Regions from separate parts of the Homo sapiens genome. Here regions 1 and 2 are each reported to be linked to region 3. The links are microRNA targets in miRTarBase. Many come from high-throughput screens and were not tested one by one. Region 3 holds a microRNA gene; each other region holds the end of a gene's coding sequence.

The links. The annotated mature microRNA hsa-miR-5197-5p reads CAAUGGCACAAACUCAUUCUUGA and lies in region 3 at 1,832-1,854, shown strand. An mRNA with a match to its seed (bases 2 to 7 or 8) in the 3' UTR can be bound and repressed. Matches are read on the target gene's strand: a 7mer-m8 pairs with bases 2 to 8, a 7mer-A1 pairs with bases 2 to 7 and ends in A, and an 8mer does both.
Region 1: miRTarBase lists SLC35G2 as a target of hsa-miR-5197-5p. Seed matches in the 3' UTR shown: 7mer-m8 at 480-486.
Region 2: the mRNA of STAMBPL1 is a reported target of hsa-miR-5197-5p. The part of its 3' UTR that is shown has no 7-base or 8-base seed match.

What each region holds. Positions count from the first base shown.
Region 1 is chr3:136,855,267-136,860,499 of GRCh38, forward strand. SLC35G2 (solute carrier family 35 member G2) reads left to right here. Exons shown (of 2, transcript NM_025246.3): 2 at 1-622. The coding sequence ends at 433. The region is part of intron 1 of NCK1-DT (NCK1 divergent transcript); the gene reads right to left. Among named protein-coding and RNA genes, the nearest start is that of NCK1-DT, 4.2 kb to the right of the region's middle.
Region 2 is chr10:88,922,596-88,927,809 of GRCh38, reverse strand. STAMBPL1 (STAM binding protein like 1) reads right to left here. Exons shown (of 11, transcript NM_020799.4): 11 at 4,323-4,642. The coding sequence ends at 4,586. Among named protein-coding and RNA genes, the nearest start is that of ACTA2-AS1, 7.5 kb to the left of the region's middle.
Region 3 is chr5:143,678,055-143,683,287 of GRCh38, forward strand. MIR5197 (microRNA 5197) reads left to right here and starts at 1,806; the gene lies at 1,806-1,917.

The DNA of each region.
Region 1 (5,233 bases), not on the chromosome of region 3:
TCTCTCAATGATAGTATACAGATCCATCAAGGAGAAGATCAGCATGTGGACTGCACTGTTTACTTTTGGTTGGACTGGGACAATTTGGGGAATATCTACTATGTTTATTCTTCAAGAACCCATCATCCCATTAGATGGAGAAACCTGGAGTTATCTCATTGCTATATGTGTCTGTTCTACTGCAGCATTCTTAGGAGTTTATTATGCCTTGGACAAATTCCATCCAGCTTTGGTTAGCACAGTACAACATTTGGAGATTGTGGTAGCTATGGTCTTGCAGCTTCTCGTGCTGCACATATTTCCTAGCATCTATGATGTTTTTGGAGGGGTAATCATTATGATTAGTGTTTTTGTCCTTGCTGGCTATAAACTTTACTGGAGGAATTTAAGAAAGCAGGACTACCAGGAAATACTAGACTCTCCCATTAAATGAATACCTGATTATTATTGTCTCATTAATGTTCAGTTATTATGTATACTGCCATTTTAATGTTTACCTATGAATGTCTTTTGTGTTATATAACTGACAGAGTGCTATAAAATATATAATATATACAAATGCAGAAAATTTATTCTAGTCTAATATATTCAAATACAAATATTAAATATATGAAATACGTTATGAATCTGGTATCTTTATTGGTATTTATGGGTGTCTTTCCAGGTAAATTGTAGTAGAAGGAGAATGTTAACTGCTATTACTAAATAATAGAAGACTCAAAGAAATGACCCCTTTCAGATGGAACTGAAGTTCAAAAATTAGAAATGTTCTACAAATGTTCAACAAAACTCCTTCATTTGTGAAAAATACACTATAAGGTGAAATGTTGAACACCAAACCCTGTTTTGTCATCTACTTGCATTAGAAAACTAGAAGTCATAGGGCTGGGTAAAGGAGCCTGGGTTGAGGCAAGAAAAGAGGAAAGAAGGGAAAATAAGTGGTTTTTTAATGACAATGGGTGGCTGTCCAAAGTTAGAACAGGAAATTGGTTTTCTCCTTATTATGAGCACATTAGGCGATACATAGGAAATAGAAATAGGGAGAAGTGTGGATTCTTGCCAGTCCTACCTAGCCCATGCCATTTTGTCCCTGATGTTTGGAGACCTAACGTTGGGGTAGGGTCTGCTTATCCTCAGTTATGTAGATCTCTTCCAAGGCTGCCCTTGTTTATGATTTTGTGGCTAGTGTATGTGTGAGCTGCAGTAAAAGTACTCCTTACTCCTGAAAAAGGCACCAACAGTAATCATAATGTAGCAGAAAATTGACATGGTATCCTGAGATTCTTTTCAAAAAGGTCTAAAAGTCTGTAAAAGCACATATGATGGCATTAAGTCTAATTTTGGCCATTCTTACCAATTTAGCACAAATAAATGATATGGTACTGTTTATTAAACTATTGTCTCAGGTCCACATTCCCCCTTCTATACATTTCTCTGTAATGCTGTGGCTCAAACCCTGCAAACTACATTTTTTTCTATGTCAGCTGGTGTCTCACTAGGTTCCATCAATAAAGGGCATTAGAGGGAGACTGGAAGGCAGAAGGGAAGAAGGGACTTCCTCCTTTCCATTTGTTTGCAGTTTCTGTCACTGTTATCCCAGCAACAAGCAAGAGCCCTTTGCTCCAGCAGCAGCAATTGATTTCAGCCTTGAGCTTCTTTTGACATCCTCCCCATCCACAACTAGCCTCATCATATCCTTCCCTGAAGTAGTAGGATCAGCCAGACAGCATCCTCTCAGGGGTCTGAGCAATACTCAGCCAGGTCATTTGTCTGAGTTTCTGAGACCTGATAATCCACCTTGAGTCCCCATTTTCACTAGATCTATCATTGACAGCTGCTCCCTGCAGTTATCACCTCTGGGTAACCTCAGTGTTCCGTTTTTGCTTTTTCAGTCAATGAAAACTCAATACTAAATCCTCTCTGTAGTAATATCATCTAATTTCTGATTTCCTGACTAACATATCTCTAAACCTTCCCCAAAGGAAACTACAGCCATCAGCAGGGTACTGTGCTTTGGGAAAATGTCAACATTTAGATTTTTTCAGGGATTACTAGACAGTGGCTCTCAATAGAAATTATACAAACTGAAAAAAGAATGAACAGAGCCTGAATGACCTGTACTAAGTACTGAGAAGTCTAGCATGAGTGTAATTGTAGTCCCAGAAGAAGAGGAGAAACAGAATGGGACAGAAAAAAAAATTTGAAGAAATACTGGACAAAAGTCTTCCAAATTTGATAAAAAAAAAAAAAGAAAAGAAAAGAAAATGAGAAACCAGCAATCCACAGACCCAGGGAATGAAATGAACCCCAAGCAGGATAAATACAAAACCAAAACCAAAACAAACATCACAGTGTAATGAAACATCACAGTGTAATGAAACATCACAGTGTAACTTTTGATAAATATAATGAAAATCTTATAAGCATTCATAGAAAAAGACACCTAGAAACATCAGTGTTAACTTTTGATAAATATAAACAAAATCTTAAAAGCATTCATAGAAAAAGGCATAAGACATACAAGAAAACAATGATAAGAATTACAACTAGTTTCTCACAGATATAATGGAGGCTGGAAAACGAGAATGACATCTTTAAAGTGCTGAAAACAAAAACAAAAACCCTTTGAATGGCTTCTCATTGCCTATAGGATAAACTCTAAGGTGCCTGACTTCCATAACCTGGTTATTGATTATATTTCTAGCTATCTTCTGCTCTAGCAATATTCTACTATCGTTTAATACCTTTTTATTATGCAGGCTCCTCTATGTGGACAGATTTTTTCTAGTTAATTGCCTGACTAACCTGGCCACACAACTCCTTTCCCCTGTGGCTTAATGTCCTCCTTGCACTGGACTGTCTATAACAATTTCTAACTATAAGCTATCAGGTTTCTGGGAAAGGTCTTGACATGGAGGCTCATTTTTCCCTTTCTTGTGTTCCCAAATTCTTTTATTTTGGATTAATAAAGTAAGCCACCTGCGTGTTTTTAATCATAGACAGATTAGCTGCCCATATCCAAAGCTCCACGTGTAGTCCCTAGATAAGTTTTGTTTTTGTTTTGAGATGTGGTGTGATCATAGCTCATTGCAGCCTCAAATTCCTGGGCTCAAGCCATCCTCCCACCTCAGCCTCCAGAGTGGCTGGGACTACAGGCACATGCCACTATGCCCAGCTGATTAAAAAAAATTTTGTTTTGTAGAGACAGGGTCTAGCTCTGTTGCCAGGGCTGATCATAAGTTTTGACTTACATTTTCTTGTTGCCTGATTCTGGTTAGTCCCTGATCCACTCAGCACTAATTAGCAAGGATGATTCCTGTTTTTGGTTTGAGTTCCCCTGAAAGAGAGGAAGCAGCAGCCATGTGCATGTTTATATTTGGAAGCTGGGGAGACAGACTGTGTGAAAGGAAGTCTCTGGGACAGCTCCCACCCCATTAAAACATGTACTGCATCCCTTCTAAGTGCAATTACATACATGCCTTTCTGCCTATCTGCCCTTCCAGTCTATGCTTTCCTTTTTCATTGCTGTTTGCTTATTTTTCTTCTTTGACTCCTCTTTTGCATATATTTTTGGAGGTTTCTTAAATTTTTTTAAAGAGTTCCTGTTAAGAATGAGTGATGAGAAAGATTAAAGAAGGAAAATTAAGAGGATAAACTAGCTGGGTGCTGTGGCTCACGCCTGTAATCCCAACACTTTGGGAGGCTGAGGTGGGTGGATCACCTGAGGTCAGGGGTTTGAGACAAGCCTGGCCAACATTGTGAAACCCCGTCTCTACTAAAAATACAAAAAATTAGCCAGGTGTGGTGGTGTGTGCCTGTAGTCCCAGCAACTTGGGAGGCTGAGGCAGGAGAATTGCTTGAACCCGGGAGGTGGAGGTTGCAATAAGCTGAGGTGGTGCCACTGCACTCCAACCTGGGCAAAAAAGCGAGACTCCATCTCAAAAAACAAACAAACAAACAAAAACCCTAAATGTATGACTTCAGCATACTTTTTGCTGGGTTAATTTTCCCCACTTAAGGTGGTGGTAAGCTACATGAAGGCAAGAACTGTATTTCTGTATTTTACCTGTTGTATTTATATTCACACCTTCTGCCTCCATCGTATGTTAAATATGTAATTAGAATTAAAATTGAGTCACGCTGTGCTAACAGTTTGATGGGTGATTTTGCAGCAACAGTTTTAACTCTGGACAAGTTTCTTCAAAAATGAATATAATATCTCAGTCTGTAAACTTTATAAAATGTATCAACAAATAAAACCATTGTATTAGCTTGGGCTGCCATAATAAAATACTAGATTGGGTGGCTTACACAACAGAAGTTTATTTTTTCAAAGTTATGTAGGTTGGGAGGTCCAAAAGAGGGTGCCAGCATGGTCAGTTTTGGGTGAGGGCTCTCTCTCTGGCTTGCAGATGTCTGTCTGCTTGCTGTGTTCTCAAATGGAGAGAGCTCTCTGGTGCCACTTTCTATAAAGACATTAATCTTATGGGATTAGGGCCCCACCCTTATGACCTAATTTAATTTTTATTACCTCCCTAAAGGCCTAGCTCCAACTAGAGATGGTCCCTGACTTAAGATTTTTTTGACTTTATGATGGTCCAAAAGCCATATGCACTCTAGAATCTGTACTTTGAGTACCCATAAAACCATCCAGTTTTTCATTCAGTATTTAGTAGATTACATGAAATACTCAATACTTTATTAAAAAATAAGCTTTGTATTAGATGATTTTGCCTAACTGAAAGCTAATGTAAGTATTCTGAGCATGTTTTAGGTAGGCTACTCTAAGCTATGATGTTTGGTAGGTTAGAAGCATTAAATGCATTTCTGACTTAAGATCTTTTCAACTTAAGGTATTTTCAGTTTATGGTGGGTTTATTGGAACATAACCCCTTTGTAAGTTAAGGAACATTTATATAGTCACATTAGGAGTGAGGGCTTCAGTATGAATTTTTGGGGGGGATGCAATTCAGTCCATACCAGTCATGATAAAATATGCAGTTATTTAAACCCTTAGAATAAACTCAAAATTCACCGCCATTATTCACTTTGGATGCTAATAACAGAATGTAGACATAGAGTAGCTGTTGCCCAGTTTCATGGTCTACTTGTCCCAGTCAACCTGAGGATAGTACAGCATAAATAGGTAAATTTGTGCTTGACCTTGTGATCCTACATATGGCAGGCTGTCTTAGTCCCTTTAGTGTTGCTAGAAAGGAATACCCAAAGCTGG
Region 2 (5,214 bases), not on the chromosome of region 3:
TTACGGATCAAATATTGGTGCCCCCGCCATTAATATGCTGAAACCTCATCCTCGTTGCAATGGTATTTGGAGGTGGGGTCGTTGGGCGTTGGGAGATAATTAGGTCATGAAGGTAGGGTCAGGCCCTCGTGATAGTATTTGTGTCCTTATAAGCAGAGACATGAGAGATGATTTCTCTCTCCCCCATTTGAGGGTAGGGCAAGAAGGTAGCCATCTGCAAATAAGGAAGGGAGTCCTCATCAAGAACTGGACTATGCTGGCACCCAGATATCAAATTCCAGCCACCAGAACTGGGTGACAGAAATACAGTGTTGTTTACGTCACCCAGTTTATGGTATTTTTGTTGTAGCAGTCCAAATGAAGGCCTGCCTTTTGATAGTTTAAAAAACAACAACGTCTTCTTGGACATCAGTATGCTAAATCTCTAAGAGCCACTAAGTCATGTTTTCATCAGCTCTCCCCGAGATAATATATTCTGGCCTTATGAAGAACAAAAGAGTAGAAAAGAAAACAAATTTTAAGAAATTTGTTGCAAAGAGCAGAAAAGCTCTTTGCATCTTAGTTGTCTTCCCAGTAAATAACAAGCCAAATTCTTTTAAGAACAAGGAGTTGAAGGTTTACCTTTCTTTCTTAATCATTGCCAAATGCATGACATTTCTCACGCATTCTTTTCACAGAAGATATTCTCTTGCCAGATAATTCTGCAAGACATGCCAGAAGAGAAACATCTGCTTTCCACATTTAGGACCTCCTCAGCTGGTTTTGCAACAGAAACCTCAACCTAAGGTCAAATCATTGTAATAACACAGTCTCCAACACAGTTGATGTGGTTGCAATGTGAAATGAATTGGGAGAAAACAGAAGTGAACCAGTGTGGCGCCAAATAAAATGTCAAATTTCCACAAGCAAAATCCTACTAAAAAGAAACTAGGAACAATTTGAGTAGCTGAGAATAATCCACAAACATTCTGCTTTGCTCTTCTACAACTGACAAGGCCTATGGAAAGAATGATTTCTGCCCTGCATGACAACAAAGAAAGCCATTTCCAATTCAGTCTGTAAGAGAAAAGGAAACAAACAACTTCAGCAAATATTTACCGGATACTACATTAGTTTGTGAGGGCTGCCAAACAGAATACCACAGACCAGATGGCTTAAACAACAGAAAATTATTTTCTCACAGTTCCGGAGGCTGGAAGTCTGAGATCTAGGTTTTGGCAGGGATGGTTTCTTCTGAGATCTCTCTCTCTTTGGCTTGCAGATGGCAGTCTTCTTTCTGTTTTCCCATGGTCTTCCTTCTGTGTATGTCTGTCCTAATCTCTAATTATAAGGACACAACTCATACTGGATTAGTGCCCACTCTACTAGCCTCATTTTAACTTAATTATTTGTGTAAAGGCCCTATCTCCAAACTCAGTCATATTCTGAGGTATTGGGGGGTTAAGGACCTCAACACATGAATTTGGGGGACACAATTCAGCCTATAACAAATACACATGAGGTGTCAGGCACTGTGTGCAAACTGACTAGCACTGAAAATCAAAGGAAGTTCTTAATTGTTTCTTTTTTTTCTACAGAAACACAAATCTGAAAAGAAATGAAGAACCATCTTTGCCTTAGGATGTGGCAAATGGAGCTTTGGAACTGATTCATATTCAAAAGAAGGATCTCCTGCCCTAGCAACACAGCAAGACCTCATTTCTACAAAATAGAAAAAAAATAGCCAGGTGTGGTGGTGAGTGCCTGTAGTCCCAGCTACTCGGGAGGCTGAGATGGGAGGATCGCTTGAGCCTACGAGATCAAGGCTGCGGTGACCCATGATTATGCCATTACACTCCAGCCTGGGCAACAGTGTGAGACCTTGTCTCAAAAAAAGAGAAGGTGCTGTCTGCCTGTTGTGAAAGAGACCTTCCATAGATAGTTTATCCAATGAACACTGGTGCTCATGCACATGTGTGTGTAGTGGCGTCTCCAGGTTGGTTAACAGGGTCTCTGCCTCACGACCAGTCCATTACTTAGTGATGTGGTCACATTTCTGTTGGTTCTTTCAGACACAGCCCCAGGGCCTCATTCTGCCAGCCAAAGTCAGGCTCTGGTTTGCCGCCTCCAACAGTCCCACTCTGTGAGATCCTGGTTAATTTGGTTTGTACTTGGCAAAAAAAAAAAAAAAAAAAAAAAAAAAAAAACCTACAAAAAAGTGCCAAGAATGTCTCCTTTATTTAGGAAATACAATATACTTTCTTAGTGAAAATGAGTTCTCTTCTAGTTTGCTATTCAGAAGGGACATAATGGTTTTGCATACTCATAGCTTCTCTTTCTAGTCTTTCTGGAAATCTAAGATGCTAAATGTTCTTGGCCCTCAACTGAGTCCTTTCTATCTTTAGGCACCATTCAATGTCCATAGCTTTTTCATCGGACAACTCTCATTTTACATCCTCTTAGTGTATTACTATAATTTTTAATTCTATACAAAGGATCTCACTCATTTCTCAACTATCCATTGTCCCAACAATTATTTTTACTTGAATAAAGAATATAACATTTTCCTTTGATCAAGCATATCAGAATATCATGGTGTGTTTAAGTGTTAAGACACTGAGGACAGCACCACTCAGGAAAAAGTGAGGTGTCTATGGAGCCAGCCTTGCAGAGTTAATCTGCTCTTAACTAGTGGTGGCCATAGACTAAAGTCTCCATGCACAAGGCAAGCCAAGCTCTACTTCTGAAGTCTGATACCTGAGCTCTCCATAGCTAGAAGATTCCATGAAACAGAAACAAGCCACTGACTTGCCCATAGTAGGTGGTTCTGTATAAATGAGAACAGGAACAGAATTCAGGTGACATGATACCAGAATTGAGAACTAGACAAGCAGGGAGGGTTGATGCATTAGTCCATTCTCATGCTACTATAAAGAACTGACCAAGGCTGAGCAATTTCTAAAGGAAAGAGGTTTAATTGACTCACAGTTCTGCATTGCTGGGGAGGCCTCAAGAAACTTAAAATCATTGCGGAAAGGGAAGCAAAACACGTCCTTCTTCACATAATGGCAGGAAGAAGTGCTGAGCAAAAGGGAAAAAGCCCCCTATGAAACCATCAGATATCCTGAGAACTCACTCACTATCATGAGAACAGCATGGAGGTAACCACCCCAATGATTCAATTACCTCCCACCAGGTCCCTCCTACTATGATTTAAGATGAGATTTGGGTGGGGACACAGCCAAACCATATCAGATGTTAACCCATCCAAGCACAGAGTACAGGAAATACCACTCTGGAATATGGAAATCATTGAACTAAGCAGTGGAAGCTAGTACATGGAAACATGAGTTGTTTAGGCAACTCAGATACAATGTCATGAGGAAAGCAAAGGCAGGGAGAGCTGTGGCTGGCACAGAAGACATTGGGAAGACAGAAGGTTTCATAGGATTAGTTTGGCCCTGTTGAAAAGTTGTGGAGATCCAGGGAGAGATGGCTGGAGAAGGAAACTTAAACGTTGAAAAGAAAAAAGAAGAAAGCTAGACTAGAGTAATGTAAGGCCCTAAAGGATGAAAAGGGAGACTAAGAAGTGATCACAAGTTTCTCGATCAAGGAAAGGGCTGTCAGCCCAGGATTTCCCAATGTGCCTGGGAGCAATGTCTTCCAAGATAAAGATTTCACCTGCAGAACTAGTCTTCAGTGTCCCAAAGGACCTATTCTCAAATAACTCAACAATATCACTTCCATTCTGCCCTCTGTGTATCTGCAGCTAAGATTTCTCCACACTGTTTCCATCCTCAGGTTTTTCCTACCAATTCAACTTGCTAACAGAGTTAGCAAGTTGACTAAGAATTATCAGTTATTTCTTATGTCTCATTTCTTCTTCCTATCACCCCTGTTCATTTTCACAGTAACAGGTTTTGTACTTTTATCTGAGTCTTTTTTTAAAAAAAAAATCCTCTCTCAAGCTTCTCTACTTTTAGTCTTCTAAATCAAATTAATGAATTGTCTGCTATCCCAGGCCCTCTGACACCTGATCCCTGAATAGAAGTGTTGTTCTTGTATCTTACACAATGATTCACTGCAGAGATATCTCTCTGAGCCTGGGATTTCATGACACTGAAAACACAGAACAAGCTTTATCAATGGCAGCCATATTTCATCTACACATGGAAGCTGTTCACCTACCTCAGGGGAAGGTTTCAGAAACAGATGGTCTGCTTTGGAGACTATATACACTCAGAATTTCTTATTTGGAATTACATTTTACATGAATAAAAAATATAGCAAATCATCTAAAGCTCTAAAAATGTATGCAGAGACCTCTATAAATACAAGACATGTTGTTTGCAGCACAATTTATTATCTGGCCATAGTATTTGGGTACATTATCAGGTACCGATTTAACACCATGTAACCTCTCTTGACACAGAGCAACCCAAAAAGAAAACTTTAAAATGTGCAACAGCAATAAATATCAAGCTTTGTCATCTAAAATGTATAAATATAAAATATCAGTCATTTCTGGAAACATCTTAAGAAAATCCGGCAACCACATGTCCATGAGTAGGTGTCTGATGTTGACGGTGCTTACATTCAGAACATATCACCTCAGATCCAACACAATTATTTTTATGTCTTTTACCAACACATGTTTGCATATCTAGGAAAGAAAAAATTGGTTTTACCATATGTTTGATTTCACCATAATGTTTACCATATGATTTTCTTTAGGGAGGAAGTATAGATTTCCTAATTTTAATTTGTTCCTGATTTTTAAAATATTTCCAATCAGAACAAATACAATCACATTTATTCATTTTCAACAACAACAAAAATATTTACAGGGGTTGCCAAATAATTTTCATTTTAAGTAAATTCTAACGTCAATATAATGTTCTCTGATGTTATAGCCACAGAACCTCCAAGAAAATTAGGAAAAAAAAAGGCGTAGTCAAATGTTTCTTTTGGACTATGCAAAGGTAATCAAGAAGTATGATCATAGTTTCCATCAATTGCTATGAAAAAACTAATTTGGCCATATCAAGCAGAAAGAATTCATGCAACATTTTAAATGTCATTTTCTATGATAATTGTTTACTTATTTGGACTCTGAAGAAAACTTTTAAATATCATACATATACATAAGCGGAAAGGTAACTTTGTGCACCATTAATTCTGCTACAGAAATACTGATGTTTCCTTGTAAATACAATTATTTTGAGAATAAATCAG
Region 3 (5,233 bases):
GCTGTTGAATATCTTCAAAACCAAATGGGTTCACTTTCAAAATAGTAAAATGTAAATTTGTTCTCTTAACACTCAGCCTCACAACATTCATACTGTAACATTTTATGTTATTTAATATGGCTTTTAAAACTTACATTAGTAATGTGCTAATGAGACCTTACAGGCTTTAATTCATTACAGAAGATGCAATAAAGACTAATATGAGTAGAGCTTCCTAGGCAACCAGGAATCAGATTTTTTTCTAATGTAAGAAAACTGGTCAATTTTCTACTCTATTGATGTTTGCCATTACAGTAATGAAGCAGGTTACATTTTCTTTGTAATAAGATGATTAATTTGGTTATTGACTTTCTGTTTCAATTTCATGTTTCATTTAAATGATTTGAAAATACAGGTTCTGTATTTTTCCACTACATGCTTGGGTCAGATGTAAAACATTTATTCTATTTGGTTCCCAACTTTAATATCGGAGAGGAATTTTTTTGTTTTTTTCATACTTAGAAGCCATTACACAGATAAAATTATCAATTGAGATTAATAGCATAGAATGTCACCCAATACAAAGGGAACTGGGTATTCATCTCAAAACTTGAATTTGAATGTGGAATCATACAGATAGAAAAATTCTGAGACAGCAGAAGAACAAAAAGTCATCATCTTTTTGTGTGAGTCACTTTCTCCTGAGACCATACCCTACATTTTGGAGGCAGATTGTTTTTTTCAAGCCAGTTACTTTATAGAGATGGGAGAGTGTAGAACTTCAAAATGCCAATGCACATGACCTTCTGATTATATGGACTTGTATAGTTTTCTGAATGTAGGTCTTATACTTCCATAAATTGATGGTTCCTCGAGAACAGATGGCATATTTTATACATCTTTGTATGATACCTAGCAAAGAGCCCTGCACAAAGTAGGTGAATAACAAATGTCTCTGTTAAATAAAGTACCATGAGAAGCATAGATGAGAGAGAGGTAAGGAATGAGGTAAGAGGTTCCAAGGACATGTCTATAAGTAGGTACTTATATTTGTTGTGTACTTTATTTTTATTGAAAGACCCTCTCTAAATCCAAATAGTCATCTACTCAGGTCTGTGGGATACAACAATTCCCCGATTACTTGGCTTAACATTCCTTCCTGCAGAGCCACTATAGGGGTAAATCAGGGATGGTCAAGAGGATTCATTCCTTATACCAACCAGTTATGTAGAATTGGTGGTGATCCCTTGGGCTGCAGTATGGAGAAAGCAGCTCAGACTATTCCTGAGCCCAGTGAAAAAGAGGACAAGATGGCCATCTATGAGCTGGATAATCAAGACAGTCCTGTCTGCTTGGTAGCACGACCCTTCTCCAAGATTTGCCCCTCATCCTTCTTTCAAAGCCCAGATCAAATTCTGCCTCTTCAAGATGGCTTTTCAGATCCCCACCTTCAAGCTAGCACCCTCCCTTTCCTGCTTGTATAGCAAACTATTCTAGCCTTTATTCTCATATTTGTCATAGTCTCCTCATCCATCTATTTCTCTCTACCTACCTAGTTATTCATGTCAATTCCACTAGAGTAGTTTCTCGTGGGGAGGCAGGGATAATCTCTTTCACTTTTCTGTCTCCTATGTGCCCAGTATAAATGGGCTTTACTTATAGGATACGCTTCATAAATGACAATGAAGGAAACTGAACAGCAGACTGATTGATGGAAGGTCACCCAACAGATCATTACAGTGATAAGAGAAAACTGATGGTATGTTAGAGAAGTAGAATGTTCTGTCACTGCAGATTGACCCTGATCTACAGCTAGGGAAGAACTGTATGGGATTCCACAGACAATGAGTATCAATGGCACAAACTCATTCTTGAATTTTTGCCAGTTCAAGAAGAGACTGAGTCATCGAATGCTCTAAATGTCACTTCACCTCATGTTCTGTCAACACAGAGGGTAACTCAGAGTGGCCAGTTCCACTCAACCATCCAAGAAAACAAAACAAGAAAAGCAGACATTAAAAGAGGGCAGTGTTCTGCACTTCACAGGTCTGTGACCTTGGCCAAATTACTTAACCTCTGTAAGCCTTAATTTCTTCTTCCTGTGTAACATGGAGATGATGGTATCTACTTACAGGCAAGAGTTGAGATAATATATGCAAAATTCTTGGCATGGTAGAATATTAATTGAACTATGAAGATGATTGTATCCACTATTCCCTTTTCCCTTCTTGGCTATTTCATTTCCATTCATGTTACTTTGTTTTATATATACACTGCTTTACTGTGTATGAGAAAAATGACTGTCCACTGGTAGAAATATAGCCTGAGGTTTTTTTTGTTTTTAATTCTCTCTCTCTCTTTTTTTTTTTTTTTTTTTTTGAGATAGAGTCTCACTGGAGTGCAGTGGTATAATCTTGGCTCACTGCAACCTCTGCCTCCCGGGTTCAAGTGATCCTCCCACCTCAGCCTCCCAAGTAGCTAATACTACATGTGTGTACCACCATGCCTGGCTAATTTTTTGTATGTTCAGTAGAGACAGGGTTTTACCATGTTTCCCAGGCTTGTCTGGAACTCCTGACCTCGGGTAATCCACCTGGCTTGGCCTCCCATGGTGCTGGGATTACAGGCACAAGCCACCGTGCTGGGCCTTTTTTAAATTATCTAACCCTAGCCCCTGAATTTTTAAAACCACCATGGAACATCACTGGAATGAAAATGGAGACCATGTGACTTCTTCAGCTTTCCAAAGAAAACAGGTTTACTGATTATACGCAGCTAGAATGGTTGGCATAATTGTTATGAATGACAAACCCTTCAATTCATTGATGTGTATGAGTCAGTGATGTTGGGATAAATGTCTTTGGATACACATTACACAGTGCTCCCAGATGTTTATATTCCTTCCCACTCCCTAACCTAATCCTAAAATATTAGCTCTCTAGACAAGAGCATAAACTGAAAACTCATATTTGCTCTTAGGACTCTTTACAATCATTTTCACATGTGATTATCTTGGTGTGTACATAGAGTGGCCATCTTTGTTTACAATGAAGACGCGAAAGCCCAAAGGTTGGCTAATGTAACCATGGAAACCAAGCTAATAAATGGTCAAATCTGTACCAAGAATAATTCTAGAGACTTCAGTTGCTTCAGAGATGGATGAGGTAGGAGTTTTTCTCAGAGGGATGCAGGTCTGTCTGTGGTCGCTTAGTTGGGTTGATTCCCACATAGTATTAATGAGCATATGGAAAGATAACAAAAGCAGCTAACACTTATTGAATACTAAAGTCTGAAGTAGCGTGCCAAGTACTTTCAGGCATTATCTCTAATCCTTATCACAAGTATATGAGGTAGGTACTATTATTAGACCCACTTTCTAAATGAGAAAATAAGCTTGGACTAGTAAGTAATTTGTTTAAGGTCATTCAACTAACAAGTGGCAAAGGATAAAAGTTAAATTTAAGTTTACCTGACTCCCAAGTTCATATTCTTTTTTTTTGAGATGAAGTTTTGCTCTGTTACCCAGGCTGGAGTGCAGTGGTGCAATCTCAGCTCACTGGAACCTCCGCCCCCCGAGTTCAAGTGATTCTCCTGTCTCAGCCTCTTGAGTAGCTGGGATTACAGGTGCATGCCACCATGCCCGGCTAATTTTTGTATTTTTAGTAGAGACAGGCTTTCACCATGTTGATCAGGCTGGTCTCGAACTCCTGACCTCGTGATCCACCTGCCCCAGCTTCCCAAAGGCGTGAGCCACCGCGCCCATCCCCAAGTTCATATTCTTAACTAACACAGACATTGCTTCTATCTCTTAGTCACCTAACATTGACTCTTTCTGTTTCATGACCAGATCTTATACTCTGATTTTTCCCCTGCTTTTGAAGAAATAAAGGTGGGAGGCAGTGGAATGGGGAAGACAGGGAGAGGAAGAGGTTGGGGAGGGAGGGATGGCTCATTCAGTGATTGTGTGCCATCTATATTCATTCATTCCTACTATGTGCCAGGCATCACACTAGATGCCAGGTCTCAGCTGTGATAAAAAATAACTTTCTTGTTCTTATGAGGCTAAATGCCCCAGGGTCCTACACCCACTTCTCCTAGTCAGTCAAATGTGTGTGGGCTTTTGAGGGGACAAGGGTGCCATGCTGTGGTATCACCCAAAGCTTTCTCTAGATAAGTGGATGTGAGAAAACCCAACAGCTGAGAGCAGCTCAGAGAATGTTTATGGAAATATGTAACTGTTTCTCTTAAAGCCAATCCTGAGTCCCCTGTTTTGACTTTGGGTACGTATAATGTACTACATACTCCCTTCCCTCTGTGTGAAGCAGATCATATTGCAGCCCTGAAGTTATGTGTGGCTGTAGTGAAGCAGCAGGCATAACACTCTGCTGTTGGCTGGTAACTGTTTCCAATAACAGACAAGCTGCATCAATGCAGGGTTTGGAATGCAACGTAGGACATAGCTAGGGGCCTCCTTGTTTTCTGTCACTAGGGTGGAGGGGGCCCTAAGGCAGGGCCTGGGTGGGCCTCTCTTCCTAATAACTCTTCTAATGAATCTCATAGCTGTCCTGGGAATTAGTTCTACCTTCTTCCTATCCATGGTAGGATTGATTTCCTTAATAGCCAGTGACTGCCTGTCATTAAGAGCTCTGGGACAGGGAAGAATGGGGACAACCACAGACCTCCTCCCTGCAAAATATGTTCAGTGATTGTGACTCACTGCATCATCTGGCCCCATAGAGCAATTTTCCAAATATTTCTCCTCAACATCTCTTTCCATCAAACTAAAATGTCAATTTTTTTTTAAAGCTCTGATTAAAGGATAAACAGTTTCATAATGGGATTTGAAAGCCTGGGCAATCATATCATTAAAAAAAAATTGGCTGCCAAGCAGCTTGCTCAAATGACACCAGGCACATTGCCTAGTGAACTTTAGGTGAATAGGCGATGGAGTCTGTCTGGGCCTGATTTGCAGAGACTTCTTAAAGAAGGGAATCTGCTGCAGGCATGCAAACTACAGCAAGACTGAGCTGTGCATGGCTAGTTTTAGGGAAGGCTCCAGCTTGGGGAGCTTGGAAGGTGGTCTTTATCAGCCTGCCAAGATATCTGTGTGGAATCACGCCCACCATTTCTTCTCCCAAAGAGACAGATGAACAGACTCCACTATGACCAATGCAATATGGTGAACAGATGTTTGCCTCACACAGCTGAAGTGAGCTGGCTTTCCAGAGATTTAAAGGAAGGAGAAGGTGTCTTG